2 separate regions of the Homo sapiens genome follow, and region 1 is linked to region 2. Evidence: fine-mapped expression QTL. A gene starts in region 2. The other region holds a variant in brackets. All regions are shown on one strand. Distances are between the middles of the regions. Region 1 has its middle 43 kb from the start of LINC01234. Region 2 holds the start of RBM19 (RNA binding motif protein 19).

Region 1 (8,332 bases), 150 kb after region 2:
ATGGCTGGCTGATCACCAAAACTCAGGTGTAGACCCACGGGCCTGGTGCAGAGGCAGGCATCTTTTGGCACTGACTTAACTGGCCCAGAGGATGCTTCTAGAACCTCCCCCCAGAGCAGGATTCAGCATCATCCAGGGCTTGGTGCGGGGTGAGCAGACATGGGCTCTGTATTCGGATCTGCCTGGGCTCCGTAACAGTCCACCACTCTCCAGCCTCGTGAGCCTCGGCAAGTGACTTAACCTGCTGAGTCCTCAGTCTCCTCATCTTTAAAATGGAGTGATGCAAGTAGCATCTCCGTCACAAAAGCGTTATCAGGCCCAGGCAGCTGCAGGCCCCTGCCAGGGCTCACACAGTGAAATGATGGGAATCAGGGCTGTCCAACCCTTCCTGCGTCACTGCCTTCCCTGTGGCCAAAAGAAAGCTGGTGAGCTGGGGAAGGTTCAGGAACTGCAGGAGAGTGAAAGGTAGCAAGAGGAGGGAGAGCTTCCAGCCACTCGCCAGGCCTGGCCTGGAATTGGCAGTGGGGAGTGAGGCAGCCTAGAGGCCATATACTGAGCCTGGCCCCTGCACCCCTGCCCCAGGCACGCACTGTTTGGAAGGGGCAGATCTGTGAGCACACAGGAGTAGTGGAGTCCACTCCCACAGAGATCTCAGGGTGCCCCTTCATGCCGCGCCCACCAGACTGCACCCTCATCTCCTCTCTTCCGGCTCAGCTGTCCTCGTGCAGCCAGTGTGGCCTGACTGATCCGTGAGCTGGATCATGTCAGTCTGCAGCTTCAAACCCTCTAGGGCCTCCCTGACGCATGGAAAGTCGAGTCCCGCTGCTCACCCCAGCACCGAGGCCCCACCTCACCTGACCCTGCACTCGCTGTCCCGGCCTTCCTCCCTGCAGGCTCCCACCCCAGGGCCCTCGAGCTGCCTCTTCCCTCTGCCTGGGATGCCCTTCCCTCACATTCTTCCTGCGTGGCGCCTTTTTATTTTCCTTTGAGATCTTAAATCACGCTTGTCCAACCCAAGCTTGGGCTTTGAATGCAGCCCAACACAAATTTGTAAACTTCCTTAAATTTGCAATTTTTTTTTTTTTTTTTAGTTCATCAGTTATCACTAGTGTTATTGTATTTTATGTGTGGTCCAAGACAGTTCTTCCAGGGTGACCCAGGGAAGCCAAAAGTTTGGATGCCCCGGTTTAACTTCTGCTTCCTCACTGAGGGAGACAGACTCCTGATCAGTTCGTCTGCAGTAACCACACCCAGCTCCTCTTTACACCCAGCCCCAACCCCCTATCCCCCATCCCCTGTCCCTCTCAGTCACAGCACTCAGTACAGGGGACAACCTGGAGTGTGAGCAAGATCTCAGTGACCCAGAGCCTTTTACCCTGTCAAAAATAACTGTTTTAAACGGGAACTAGGAAAGCAATTAAGATTTTTGTTACAATCATCATCATTGTTCTAGAATGCAGTAAAGTACAGCCAGGTAGCCATAAAGCGGAGCTCGGGAAAAGTCATTTGCCTGGCCCAGAGGAGGGGCTTCATCTCTTCTTCCTTTGGAGAAGAGGGACTGGTGAAAGCGTCTTACGAGAAATTCCTCCATCCAGCATGTGGGGGTTGAACTGGGAGACTCTAAGCCTTTGAGCCAAGGCAGCAAGGGACTGAGTCACCGCTGTCACTGGGAGGGGGACACGGGAGCTTTCTGAAAGGCGGCTTCGGTTGTTTTTGAAGCAATGATGGGACGTTGGTAGACACAGACACCCAGAAGATCTGGGAGAGAAACTCCAGAAATAACCCACAGAGGTGGCACTGAGGAGGGAGCACTCCTCCAGGGCGGTGAGCCTCCTGACCCGGCTCAGGACTGACTGCTGCAGGGGGCAGGAAACTGCCTCAGCCACATCTCAGGGGGCTGTGACCCTTCCCTGCCGATATGGTCACCAGAGAGCCGGGAAAGAGAACCATAACAGGCTGGACCAGAGCACTTGCGTAGGAAAGGAGAGGTGACACCAAGAGGCCAGAGGGGCCAAAGGGACACAGGGAGGTGGGAGGTCAGTAGGACACGTGCCTCAGAAAAGCCAGAGGCACACATCTGGATGAGGCCTGTGACCCGGTGTTCAGAGTGTGGCTCAGTTAGCTGGGAGGAACGGGGACAGGCTGTTTCCAGAGTGGAGGGCTGGCTGGAACCGCATCTGCTGTCCTCACGTCCGTCTCCCACCCGCTGTGGGTCTCAGGGGCCTGGCCCCTTGAGCTGTGTCTCTGAAACTCCCTTATCAAGAGGCTTGTGTTCAGTTTGGCCAGCAGTGGGCACTAGCGGGCGCCTGGAAGGCTGGTAGAAGAGAAACTCCAGGCATCCCGCCCTCTCCCTCTGTCCCACGTGGCGTCTCCACCAAGGGTCCACCCCTGGATGGGTGAGGAGGGCCCTGGCATCTCTACTATAGGATACACACAGTCAGACTGCAGGAGGGAGATGGGTGGTCAGACAGGTCCTGGAGAACAGACAGGGGTGAGGGACAGTGGGGCCTGGAGGAGGGACAGGAGTGAGAGACAGTGGGGACGGGAGGAGGAGAGCGGAATGCACAGGCCCTGACTCCAAAGGCCTGCGTTAGAATCTCTAGGCTCTCAGTGTCTCCAGGCCTTGCGTTCCATGTCTTTCAAATGGGTGCAGGAATTCCTGCCTCATTGGATTGGTTAAGACAGAAACAGAAGGTCATGAATGGAAAGTAGTTAGCAGACTGTGTCATGCCTAGTGAGTACTTAGTAATGGTAGTTGCCATCATTATTGTGAACATAACTTCAAAACAAGGCAAGCTTGTGGGGCTGCACCCAGCAGATGTCAGGCCAGCTGGGCCCACGTCCAGAGGCTGGGGCGGGATAGGGACTCACAGGGCGCTGCGCCATGTTGGGGAGGAGCCTATGATCCAGGAAGGAGCCTGTAGGAGGTGCCCCCCTGCCCACTGGCCCCAGTAGGCAAACCAGCACCTGGCTCTTCCTGCACAGAACCAAAGTTCAAGCCCAAATGGGCCAATGGTTGTGGGGAAACAGGTGAGCACCCCCACAGGAGCAGCTGCCTGTCTATTGCTGTGTCTGTGTGTCTGTTCCTAACCCTTTCTTTTTTTTTTTTTTTTTTTTTTTTGAGACAAAGTCTCGCTCTGTTCCCCAGGCTGGAGTGCAGTGGCGTGATCTGGGCTCACCTCCCTGGTTCAAGCGATTGTCCCGCCTCAGCCTCCCAAGGCTGGGATTACAGGTATGCACCACCACGCCCGGCTAATTTTGTATTTTTCATAGAGACTGGGTTTCACCATGTAGACCAGGCTGGTCTCGAATTCCTGACCTCAAGTGATCCACCTACCTCGGCCTCCCAAAGTGTGGGGATTACGGGTGTGAGCCACCACGCCCGGCTAATTTTTTGTATTTTTAGTAGACAGGGTTTCACCATGTGGGCCAGGCTGGTCTTGAACTCCCAACCTCAAGTGATCCACCCACCTTGTTCTCCCAAAGTGCTGAGATTACAGGTGTGAGCCACCATGCCCAGCCTGTTCCTAACCCTTTCAACTGGGGGGTCTCAAGTGGGTGAGGACTCCATGGCCACGGCAGCAGAACTGTCTCTTCTGAAAACCAGACTCCGGGGCCCCTGGGTCAGCACCTCTAGGTCATTCCACAGACTTACACAGTTTAAAGAAAGAGCCAGCGAACATGGGGTGATCCTGGGGTGCCACTGGGATCCCAAGCCAGGCCCGGAGGTCTGCCTGTTTCGTCCCCAGAAACTTGAGCTGGCATCCTCCGCTGGTTTGCACTGGGCACGGGGACTGGAGAGCCACCAGGCCACTGAGCGCAGCATGCTATCACTTCTCAGGAAGTTGTGAGGGTGAGGAGAATAGCCGGGCCCACTCTGCAGAGGGGAGGAACAGGCACAGGCTAGAGGCACGGGCTGATAGAGTGAGTCCTCTCCCTCATTCATTCATTCATTCATTCATTCATCCATCAGACACCTGCTGGGCATCTGCTGTGTGCGAGACACTGTGCTGGGTGCCCCAGACACAAGACAGAAACTCGGGTCGCTCTGTGTGCCTCCACACTGGCCTTCCCTGCTGCGTGGACGCAGGCTCTGTCTCCTAGGCTTTAAGCCCCATGCATCAGGTGGAAGACAATTTCCAGC[A/G]GCCTCTGCCCGCTTGTTTTTCCTCCTCTCCTTTTCCTGCCGCCTTGGTCTTTTTTGTCTTTTGTGCAGGGCCGTCTCTCGCAGCGCCCGTCTGTGCTCCGCAGCGTCTAGGAAAGGATTAGTGTGAGCAGAGCACGCAGGCTTTGGTGAACAGAGCCGAGCTTGGTTTCAACATCTAATTCAATTTGTTCTGCCGAGATTGAAATATGAAATGGTTGCCAGTCAAACGTTCAAAGGACGGGGAAGGGAGAGTGAGCGCATGCTGAAATTTAAATTTTAATGAAAATGACTTTAACCCTTTGGTACACCTTGCAAAATGTAACCCATCCTCCCATCCTGTGAAAGCGGCCTCTCGGGTTAGAGCTTTTCCACCCACTTCTCTTCCACTGAGCTTCACTAATAATATGTAATCATTTTTTTCAGCCGTCTTAATAATAAAAGATTAATAGAATGCTTGCATAATAATAATTTATTCACCCATGCCGCCTAGGCCATTGAAATAGTCACCTTGCCTAGATGACTTTCCCAAGCCCCATCCTAGACAAGCCCCGGCCCCTCGTTAGATTCACTCGTCACACCGAACACCTCCCTAGCTCCTTACAGCTGTGAACAGTTTCTGTGTTTTTATTTCATGTCTGACCTCTCTCTCTGGACCGGAAGTCCCAGGAGAGCAAGGTCTGTGCCCATTTTGTGCGTGCTGCATCGTGGAGTAGATGCTTAGTAAATACTCGAGGAAGGAATCAGTGGCCCCACTTTGTCCTTTTAGCAACTGTGAGAGGTAAGTTGATGGGAGATGTAGAAATGGAGAGGTGGGTGACATTCCCAAGATGGCGCTGCACAGAGGGCTGCCACCAGGCTCACACTCAGCTCGCTCTGGCACAAGCCCAAGCCCCTACCTCCCCAGAGCAGTGAGGGCAGTTCCCACATGCAGGGGGCCCGGCCCTATGCTGGGTTTCAGAGGCACACCCTGTGCTCTCGCTCCTGCTGCAGGGCCTGAACTGCTGTCTCCTCTTTACAGCGAGGGCAGGCCCAATGTGTGCCAGCTCGAGCCTTATCCTCAAGGCAGCAAGAGCAGGCCCAATGTGTGCCGACTCGAGCCCTGTCCTCAAGGCGGTGTGGGTGAAGGGCTCTCTCTCCTCACCCCCAGTGAGATTCTCCTATTCAGCTCCTGCTTGCCATGGAACCCCTAGTGTGTTTTTTGTTTTGTTTTTAAATATCAAATGCCATCAGTGCCGGACCAGTGGGCATGCGTGGCAGCTCATTATGGCTGTGGACAGACAGTGCCAGGCATTGACCAGGCATCATAGGTTTTCAGGGTAGAGTGGGATGATGGGGGCAGCCCTGAGACCACCTTCAGGACAGTTGGCTTCCAAGGACTGAGTCCTTGGCTTCATCCTCCAGGGCTCATACAGACCAGGAGCGCAAGGGAGAGGTTCAAACCTGAAACACCCAGCAAATGTGTGTTGAGCTTATGTGCACCAGGCATGGCCATGATGCTGGGAATGCAGGAGTTGACACAGCAGATAAGACTCCCTGGCCTCGAGGAGCTGGTAGTCAAATGTGGGGAGACCCAGACATGAGTGGGTGGAGGATTGCTTCCCTGGCACTGCTGAGGCTCCATTCTCTCTGGGGATGTCTGGCAGGGTCAAGGAAGGGCTCCCTGAGGAGGTGGCATGTGAGCAGAGCTGGGAGGAAGGGGACAGCTCTGTGTGCTCAAGGGAGAGTGAGGGGGACAGCCCGGGCCCCAGAAAAAGCCAGGGAGAGTGGGCAGGGGCCTGCCAACCCGGCTCAGGCTTGGGTGTCAAGTCTGGGCCTGTGGAGGGGAGCAGAGCCGGCCCAGTCTGCCACCATGTTAAGGATCAATAGCAGAAGGTCAAGGACTGAAGCAGGGACAGGTGTTCAGAAGCCATTGCAGTGGCCAGGAGAGCAGGGAGGTGGTGACTCAGAGCAGGGAGGTGGCAGTGGAGGGGTGAGGTGGCCCAAGCCTGTAGACAGACTGAAAATGCAGCCAGTGGCCTAAAGGTTTGGCTGTGGGGTGTGCACAACCAAGGCTAGCGCCCTGGCTCCAGCCCAAGCAGTGGGAAGAAGGAAGCTAGTGTGCGCTGAGACCATTGCAGGAAGAGCTGGCTTGGAGGGAAGCAGGAACTGGCTTTAAACTCGGTAAGCTGTTGACTGCTAAGAGGTGGAGAACACACCGGAGGATACGTGTCTCAGGTTGAGGAGAGAGGGTTGGACCGAGGTATAACAGGAAATTATCCTTCTTTGGTTAAGAAATCTAAAAGGGGCCAGCCTCGGTGCTTCACTCCTGTAATCCCGGCACTTTGGGAGGCTGAGGTGGGAGGATCGCTTTGAGGCCAGGAGTTCGAGACCAGCCTGGGCAACATAGGGAGACCCCATCTCTACAAATAATTTTTAACATTAGCCGGCTGTGGTAGTGTGGGCCTGTGGTCCCAGCTACTCAGGAGGCTGAGGTGGGAGGATCACTTGAGCCCAGGAGGTCGAGGCTGCAGTGAGCCATGATCACACCATCGCACTCCAGCCTGGGCAATGGAGTGAGATGCTGTCTCCCAAAAAAAAAGGGAAAAAAAAAGAAATCTAAGAGTCAGCATGGGAACTAACAGCCCCGTGTAGACAGACCTGGGAAATCTCATAGCTTCAATGCTTCAAGTTAATTTTTTTATTTTATTTTTTTTTTTTTTGAGATGGAGTCTCACTCTGTCGCCCAGCCTGGAGTGCAGTGGCGCGATCTTGGCTCACTGCAGCCCCTGCCTCTCTGGGTTCAAGCAGTCCTCCCACTTCATCCTCCCAAGTAGCTGAGATTACAGGCATGCACCACTATGCCTGGCTAAGTTTTGTATCTTTAGTAGAGGTGAGGTTTTGCCATGTTGGCCAGACTGGTCATGAACTCCTGACCTCAGATAATCCTCCTGCCTCGTCCTCCCAAAGTGCTGGGATTACAGGCATGAGCCACTGCACAGGCCTCAAGTTCATTTTGAAGCCACTTCTAGATGGTTCCAAACTCCTTTGGCCCCAGAACCCGTTTCCCAAACAAATGTCTTAAACAGATTAAGCAAAACTGCTTTGTTCCAAGTCAGGGTACAGGCCTGACCTCCCCCACCCAGACTCCTCTTCCCCCTCAACACCTCAGTGATTTGAAAAACACTGACCTAGGCCTGGCGCGGTGGCTTACGCCTGTAATCCCAGCACTTTGGGAGGCCAAGGTGGGTCATCGCAAAGTCAGGAGATGGAGACCATCCTGGCTAACATGGTGAAACCCCATCTCTACTAAAAATATAAAAAATTAGCCGGGCATGGTGGCACGTGCCTGTAGTCCCAGCTACTCGGGAGGCTGAGGCAGGAGAATCACTTGAACCCGGGAGGTAGAGGTTGCAGTGAGCCGAGATCGTGCCACTGCTCTCCAGCCTGGACAACAGAGTGAGACTCCATCTCGAAAAAAAATATATTGAACTAAAAAATGTCTCCCAAAGCACAGAGCACGGACCTCTGTGCTTCAGGAGATGGTTTAGGTGGCCCACACACTTTTCTTTTTAATTTTTAACTCACAAGTTTATTTTCACATGTATGCCACAAATACAAACCTGTATTTGTTTAGGTCATCAAACCTATGGTGTTGCTAAGCTCTAAGGAATACCGGTGAATTCGTATAAAGAAAAGTATTAAAAACATGAATTTCGTGAGGCAAAGTAGTAAAGAAGCGACGTGAATGATCAAAATCAGGGGTTGGCAAACCATGGCCCTCTTTTTTTTTTTTTTTTTTTGTGCTGCTGTTGCCTGGTTTTGTGAATAAAGTTTTATTGGAATACAGCCATGCCCATTAGTTTACATATTGTCAATAGTTGCTGCATGTAACAGAGTTGAGTAGCAACAGAGACCTTATGACCTGCAAAGCCTAAAATATTTACCATCTGGCCCTTTGCATCAAGTGCAGTGACCCCGATCTAAAGCAAACCCCCATCATTTTACAGATTAGAAAGCCCAGAGTGTCTTCTACAAGGTCACACTGTGGCAGAATTCCCCGTTCCGGCTCTTTCACCTCTGCTATGCTGCCTCGGCACATGTGCTGAGTAAAACTTTATTGACAAGACCAGGCAACAGTAGCAGGAAAAAGAAAAACGAGCTGTGGTTTGGCGACCCCTGATTTCAATCATTCATACCCCTTCTTTACTA
Region 2 (8,332 bases):
TGTGCTAGTTCTTCTCTAACAGCCCATCTCCCATTCCCTGAGCCTGCTCCTCCACTTTGCTCTGTGCCCCAGATGCAATCTGTGTGCACTGCAACATCTGTGATCATGCCTCCAGCTTCCCATTGGTTCGGCCAAGGGGAGGCTCCAGTAGGAAACTGCAGTTGGGAAGAGAAAGAGGGGACAGTGTATTTATCCCCGACACACACACACCTGTGGTTCCACAGTGGCTGTATCTCTCTATAGCTCTAGTCCTTAAAGTACGTCCCTCTTCCATGGCTCCTGGCATCACTGAAGCTCAGGAATGACATGTCCTACTCTGCCCTTCAGCCCCAGGGGTGGTGATAGCTCCCCACTGTTGCCAGGCCCTGGGGTTTGGCCATCCTTTGTTGGTTCCCTTAACCCTTCCTGTATTCATTTGCTGCAGGTGCTGTCTCAAATTACCACAAATTAGATGGCATAACAATGCAAAGTTATTCTCTCACATTTCTGGAGGCCAGAATCCCCCAAAGCACCAGCAGGGCCATGCTCCCTCCAAAACCTCCAAGGGAGAACGCTTCCTTGCTTCTTTCAGCTTCTGGTGGCTCCAGGTCTTCGTTGACTTGTGACTGCATCACTCCAGACTCTACCTCCACCTACACATGACGTTCTCTGTGTGTCCTTTAAAAGGACATGTGTCATTGGATTTAGGGTCTACCAGGATAATTCAGGATGATCTCATTTTGAGACCCTTAAGTACATTTGCAAAGACCCTTGATATGGTTTGGCTGTGTCCCCACCAAATCTCATCTTGAATTGTAGCTCCCATAATCCCCACGTGTCCTGGGAGGGACCCAGTGGGAGATAATTGAATTATGGGGGTGGTTTCCCCATACTGTTTTCGTGGTAGTGAATAAGTCTCACGAGATCTGATGGTTTTATAAGGGGAAAGCCTTTCACTTGGTTCTCATTCTCTCTTTGCCTGCCACCAGGTAAGACATCCCTTGCTCTTCCACCATGATTGTGAGGCCTCCCCAGCCATGTGGAACTGTGAGTCCATTAAATCTCTTTCCTTTATAAATTACCCAGTCTCAGGTATGTCTTCATTAGCAGCGTGAGAACAAACTAATACAACACTTTTTTGCAAATAAAGTCACATTTACAGCTTCCAGGGGTCAGGATGCCCCCAGTGTGTGTGGTGGTGAGGGGACAGGGGATCATTCATCCCACTACACTGCCCACCCTTCTGTAAATAGCTTTTTGTCCAGATTTGCTTTTGTTAAATCCTTTTGAGTATACCTCTGTGTCCTGCTGACTGATGCATTTCCTTCAAAAACATTTATAGCTACATACCTACCGTTTTTTAACAACTGCATAGAATTCTGTTGAATGGACAGACCTTAATTTACAATTAGCATTTAATGAACTCCTATTACCTGTCTCCTCCTGGTGCCCAGTGTGATGCTTTGCAAAGATGGATCTAAGGATGCCCCTATGGCAACATAATGTAGAAAGAACAAGTGGCCTCATCTATAACTCTGAACCTACACTGTGCGCTCCTCACCAGCGAGTTCTGTAGGTTTATGCTGTGGCAGATGCATGAGCTCCCTGCATTTGGGGCTCAGTAGGAAAGAGGCATATTCGAGGATGCCATGTTTGAGCTGGTCTTAGAGAGGGGATGGGAATGGGTTCAGAAAGATATTCCAGTGGCCAAAAGCACATGAAAGATGCTGTTTCATTAGTTATCGGGGAAATGCAAATCAAAACATTGAGTCACCACTGTACACCCACTAGAGTGGCTATGATTATAAAGACCCAATAACAAACACTGGAGGAGATGTGGAGATATTTGAACCTTCATATACCGCTGGTAGGAATATAAAATGGGGAAGCCACTTTGGATAACAGGTTAGCAGGTTCTAAAAAGGTTAAGCATAGAGTTACCATATGATCAGGCAATCCTACTCCTAGGAATATATCCAAGAGAAATAAGAACATATGCCCACACAGGAACTTACAGGTAAATGTTCACGGCAAGATTATTCACAGTAGCCACAAAGCGGAAACAACCCAAATGTCCATCATCAACTGATGAATAAATAAAATGTAATACATCCATATATGTAATACTATTCAGCAAAAAAAGTGTGGTGGCTCACGTCTGTAATCCCAGCACTTTGAAAGTTCAAGGCAGGTGGATTGCTTGAGCCCAGGAGTTCAAGACCAGCCTGGGCAACATGTTGAAACCTCGCCTCTACCAAAAAATTACCAAAAAAAAAAAATTAGCCAGGCATGGTGGCATGTGCCTGTAGTCCCAGCTGCTCAGGAGGCTGAGGTGGGAGGATGGCTTGAGCCTGGGAGGCGGAGGTTGCAGTGAGCTGAGATTGTGCCACTGCACTCCAGTCGGGGTGACAGAGCCCGACCCTGTCTCAAATAAATAAACAGATAAATAAAGTGCTGATTCATGCTGCAACATGGAAGAACTTTGAAAACATTATGCTAAGTGAAAGAAGTCAATTACAAAAGACTACATATTGTATTATTCCATTTACATGAAATGTCCATAACAGACAAATCCATAGAGACGGAAAGTAGATTAGTGGTTATCAGAGGGAAGGGAGAGGGAGGAATTGGAAGGTTATAGCTAAAGGGTGTGGTGTTTCTTTGGGGGTAATGAAAATGTCCTAGCATTGATTGTGGTGATGGCTGCACACCTCTGTAAATATAGTCAGCACCATTGAATTGTGCACTTTAAGTGGGTGAATTGCATGGTTTGTGATAAAGCTGTTAACAATAAGAAGGGGGGACGGAATGTCTTTTAGGTGAAGGAAATTGCAGAAGCTTGGCAGCAACGTCCAGTGCAGCTGAGGCACTGTGGGGAAACAGAAAGGAAATACCGTCATTTAAGAGTGAAAATAGGGGTTTTCATAGGATGTCTCCATCCAAGAGTAGGTACCGAGAATGCTCAGAGAAGCAATAGGAAAATAACATCCCTTTCACGTTCTCACCTCCTTAACCCCTAGCATAATAAAGAATTATTCCCATTTTATAGAAGTAGACACAAAGGCTCAGAGGCCATTTTGGCCAAGATCTCTCAGCTAGAAGATTGGCCAGCTGAGAGTTCCAAACATTAGGAAGGGAGGCAAAATGCTTGTGGGGCTGGGGTTGAAGGCGTAGAGACTCATTGTAGGGCCCTAGGCAGTCCCTAGCTCGAATCTGACTTTCCAATTCATAGTTATAAGACTTTGAGCAAGCTGCTTTACACGCACGATTCCCAGTTTATCTGCCTGCAAAATGAGAGCGTTTATTTCCAACATGTTCATTCCAAGTATTTACACAAAAGGCTCAATACTTGATTTGTGTTGGCTGGCAATCTCTCTAAACTTCACTTTCCCCATTTCTACGAGGAAGGCAAGGGTCCCTAATCTTGCCCCCGTTCTCAGGGGAGTCCTAAGGCTCAATAATAAAAATAAAATAAGAAAAAGGAGAGAACGCGATTGCCCGGTTGGCGCGACCCTTAACACCGAGCTAAACCGGCGCATGTTAGGGACCGGCGCCCCCTGCCGCCTTCTCCGCTGCATTGGCGTCTCACAGAATCCGCCCAAGGCCCTGCGCCTGCGCAAAATGCAAGCGCCCAGGCCCACCCCTTGTGGGGTGTGACCTCCCTGAGTAGTTTTGGATTAGCCACGCCTACTTCCGGACAGGTCAGGCCAAGGTCTCAGCCACGTGACTGTGTTCCGGCTCGGTAAAGATGGCGGCGCCCAGGGCGGTAGCGTGAAACTTGGTGGAAGACGCTGACCAGTCGTGTTGGAATCAAAACAGCGGGGACCCTGCGCCATGTCGCGACTGATCGTGAAGAATCTCCCGAATGGGGTGAGTGCAGAGGCAGGACTTGGGAATCTGAAATGAGACCAGCCGGGAGCTGTGAGGTAGGGAAGAGATGCCTGGAGGTGATCGAAGAATTTTTGCTCTGGGGCAGGACTCCGGGCCAATTCTGAACTCAAAGGGGGCGGGATCCTGGGCTTATCCCCATTTGATCCCGAGGAAAGAGGAATAGTGACTGCTTACGGTTTCACGGCCGGTTGTTTGGTACCTGACTCCTAACACACCTCTTCTCGGGGAGATGACAACTCCCACCTTGTGGCGAATACCCTGCTCCCACAACCTCTTTCATTCGATCACTGTTTTTTAGTTGTTGACCCGGGACATGGTCCGACACTGTATTTATATTCCTCTCCCAGTCTGGAAACTGTTGGGGAAGACATGGGGAATATTAATCTGCGGACCTGCGTTCCAATTCCCACTCCCATCCTTAGGGCAAGTAGGAATACGGAGTGGGTAAAGGGCTTTACAGCATTTATCCAGTAAGTGGGGAGTGGTGACCCAGCCATACTTTTTTGTTTCCCTGGAGCCCAGCGCAGAACCCGACACGTGGTAGGCAAAATAGGTGAATGTACGTAATATTAGATGATTAGATGCGGTGGGCTCGAATGGATCATCCTTTTTTCTCTCTCTCGCTGTTTTTTGTTCTGTTTTGTTTTTTTGTTTTTAAATGGATTACTGCTCCTTCCATCAGGTTAGACAGTGTCTCTTGATGCCTCGCTTTGTGGGATGAGGATTTTTAGCGTAGCTGCACTTCCTTTCCCTCCCAAATTCAGCTTTGTTGTGTTTCAAGTGTAGTTGATTCTCTTATCATTGTTTGTCTTATCTCTTTTTTTTCTCTCTCTTTCATGGCTTTTTTTGGTTTTGTTTTTTGTTTTTTTCTTTTTTTGTTTTTTTTTTTTAAACGGAGTCTGGCTCTGTCTCCCAGGCTGGACTGCGGTGGAGCAATCTCGGCAGTCTCGGCTCACTGCAACTTTTGCCTCCCGGGTTCTAGCGATGCTCCTGCCTCAGCCTCCCAAGTAGCTGGGACTACAGACACGCGCCACCAAGCCCGACTAATTTTTTTATTTTTAGTAGAGACATGGGGTTTCGCCATGTTGGACAAGTTGGTCTCGAACTCCTGACCTCAGGTGATCCACCGCCTCGGCCTCCCAAAGTGCTGGGATTACAGGCGTGAGCCACTGCACCTGGCCCCCATTTCTGTTCTAATGTTGTGAGTTTTTTCCTTTCCTTTTTTTTTTTTCATTTGTCAGGTGGGACAAAGGAACTTTGTAACACACAGTTTTCAAAATTCAAACAGTATAGTAGTGTATAACATGAGTAGCAAAGTCTTTGCTCTGTCCTACCTTCCCTCTCTGTCCAGGAGTAACCATCTTCATTGATTTGTTTTTGGGACTCCTCACATGTATCTCTGTATATTTGAGGAGTGTACTTTCCTCCTTTTGACCTGCCTGCCCCAGTGACTATCTGCTAGGCCTCAACTGTGAAAAATAAGGAATTTAGATCATCTGTTCCTCCTCTCCAGTGTCTGTAATATTCTTGTTTTTAATTATCCTGTTATAATCTCTGAGTAGTATACTTAAAAATATCTATTACTCATCCATCCATCAGGTTAGACATGTCTCTTGATGCCTTGCTTTGTGCGATGAGGATTTTTAGCGTGGCTGCACTTCCTTTTCTTCCCAAATTCAGCTTTGTTGCACTTCACAGTGTAGTTGACTCTCTTATCATTGTTTGTCTTATCTCATGAATGAAAGAATAATAAAAACAAGGGCAGTTGCAGCTGACACTTGGAGAGTTTACTGTGTGCCAGGCACTGTTCCAGGTGCTTTAGGTAAAGTAACATTTAATCCTCACCATATCCCTGTGAGGTAAGTTTTATTTTTACGCCCATTTTAAAGGTAAAGAAACCAAGATACAGCGAGGTACAGGGATTTGCCTGAGGTCACACACTGGTGTAATTTATAGAGCAGGGATTGAATTGAGCAATCTTTAGTTTAGGGATTGAATTGAGGAAATAATTAGTAGTGAGTACTTGTGATATTGCTGACACTGTAGATAGAGGTGGATAAGCCTGTGTCCTTATTTTTAATGGGACTTGCAGGCTAGCAGAAAAGAGAGGCACCAGATCATTACGATGCAAGGTGCATCACTGACATGTGAACCGAGTGCTGTGGGAGCACAGTGAGGGTTGGTTATCTCGTCCATCTAAGGCATCTAAGAAAGGCCTCCTGGAATAGGAGATGATTGAACTGAGAATGAGGAGTTAGCCAGGGCCTGTCTTGGGAAATATCACCCAGAGGGGACAACCAAAGTAAAACCTCGGAAGTGAGAAGGCTGTGAGAAATTTGTCAAAGCGTGGTGCTGAAGAGGTTGGTCAGGGCAGATCTTGAAGAATTGCATGTTTTCCTTTAGGTGCTCGTCCTTGAGACTTTGGTGCCAGAAAGTCACCGAAAGGTTTTTGGCAAAGGAATGATGGATTCAGACTTGAGCCAGGTCTCTCCCAGGCACTGAGGAATTGAATTCACTGTCTTATATTTCTGAATTGAGTCACAAACCTTGATTCTGTAGGCCTTGGGCAGATCATTTATCCCTTATGAGTTTCATTTTCTCTATAAAATGTGGACAAAAATTCCTAACTCACAGTGTGATTGAGATTTTGATTAGATCAGTTAGTAAGAAGCTACCTCAGAAAATGTCATCTTCTGGCTGGACTGCCAAGGCCTCTAGCTTCTTGCATTTTCAAACTTATTTTGGCTGTTCGTGGGGCCCTGAATGTCCCCTCAACTCCACTACCACACACACAAATATCCCAGTATCTGCTTAGAAAACTGAGTTGTGAGGGTAGCCTGGCTGCAGTGAAGATGGTGAGAAGCCAGGAGCCTGTTTTCCATAGTGTGGGGCTTCTTGACCAAATTATAATAATAGTGTGTTAGTTTTTTAGTGCAGCTATAGCAAATTAGCACAAACTTAGTGGCTTAAACAATCCAGACAATCCTTATCTTACAGTTTTGCAGGTCAGAAATCCTAAAATCAAGGCTTTGGCAGGGCTGCAGTCCTTCTGGAAGCTCTGTGGGAATATCTGTCCCTTTGCCTTTTTTCAGCTTCTAGAAGCACCTGCCTTCCTTGGTTCATAGCTATATACTCCATATTTGGAGCCAATAGCATAGCATCTTCCAATCTTTCTGTTTCCATCTTCTCTGATCTTCCCGCCTCCCTCTCATAAGGACCCTTGAGGTGACATTGGACCTGGCTGCATAATCCAGATCATCTCCCCATCTCCATATCAGTCACACCTGACAAGTCCCTTTTGCCTTGTAAGGTAACATATCCACAGTTTCCAGGGATTAGGATGTGGGCATCTTTTGGGGGGGCTTTATTAACAAAGATATATATAGCTTACCATGCCTGTTCATTCTTTCATTTATTCCTACAAGTATTTATTAGGTATCTACTATGTAGCAGACGTAATACTGCTTCTGTAATTGGTCTTATCCTCATAGGAGCCCCATAGGGTAGGAAGATGTCATTTGCAGCCATTATGAGTCATGATTTCCACATCAGTGAGTGGTTAAGGGACTTTCTCAAGGCCACACAACTCGTGCTAGAGTCAGAGCTGGAACCTGTTGTAACTAGAAAAGTACACTCTGCCCCTCTTCATCTAAGGCCACCCTTGGAGAATCTCGTGGCCTCAGGTTTCCAGCCCATTTTGTCCCCTTGCTCTGGGGACTTTCCAGTTCGTCTCTCATTCCTTTCCCTCTGTCCTAGATGAAGGAGGAGCGTTTCAGGCAGCTGTTTGCCGCCTTCGGCACGCTGACAGACTGCAGCCTGAAGTTCACCAAAGATGGCAAGTTCCGCAAGTTTGGTTTTATTGGCTTCAAGTCCGAGGAAGAGGCCCAGAAGGCACAGAAGCATTTCAACAAGAGCTTCATCGACACATCCCGGATCACAGTGAGTGGGCAGGAGTCTCACCCTTACCTTCCTGTCAAGTGTGACGTTGTTTGATCTTTCACTCAGCACTTGAGTTCAAAGACCGTCCCTCTTCACTTTGTGATGTCTTTGGTTTTCTTCCTCACCGATTCACACACTTTCATGTGCATACAAATCACCTGAGAGCTTATTATAACAGCTTCCTGGGCCCGTCCCCAGAGCATCTGATTCAGTGCATGGAGTCAGGACCCAAGAATTCACACATCCAACAAGCCCTCAGGTGACGACCATGCTGCTGGTCTGAGGCCCACACCTTGAGAACCACAGCTCTACCTCATCCATTCACTCATGCATTTAGCAAGCACTCAATGATGCTGGGAGTTTAGAGAAAAAGGTGATGCCTCAGCCCCTGTCCTCATGGAGCCTGCTGTCTCTGGGCAGGCAGGGGGCTGACAGGTCAGCAGGCTGCTTTGGCTCAGTGACATCAGTGCTATGATAGGGTGAGCCCCAGGGACTGTGGGAGAACAAAGATCTATAGCCGGAC

Evidence for each region.
Region 1: its variant is fine-mapped to the expression of RBM19 in cerebellum (GTEx, PIP above 0.99). The same link has a PIP of 0.9 or more in cerebellar hemisphere, prefrontal cortex, spinal cord and whole blood.

The regions. Positions count from the first base shown.
Region 1 is chr12:113,813,003-113,821,334 of GRCh38, reverse strand. It overlaps a transcript of RBM19 not described here. Among named protein-coding and RNA genes, the nearest start is that of LINC01234, 43 kb to the right of the region's middle. RefSeq lists enhancers at 1,534-2,459, 2,460-3,387. The variant A/G (reference allele first, on the strand shown) is at 4,145.
Region 2 is chr12:113,961,709-113,970,040 of GRCh38, reverse strand. RBM19 (RNA binding motif protein 19) reads left to right here and starts at 3,716. Exons shown (of 24, transcript NM_016196.4): 1 at 3,716-3,849; 2 at 7,627-7,809. The coding sequence starts at 3,814. RefSeq lists enhancers at 3,410-3,479, 3,438-4,365, 4,366-5,294, 7,265-7,314, 7,455-7,504.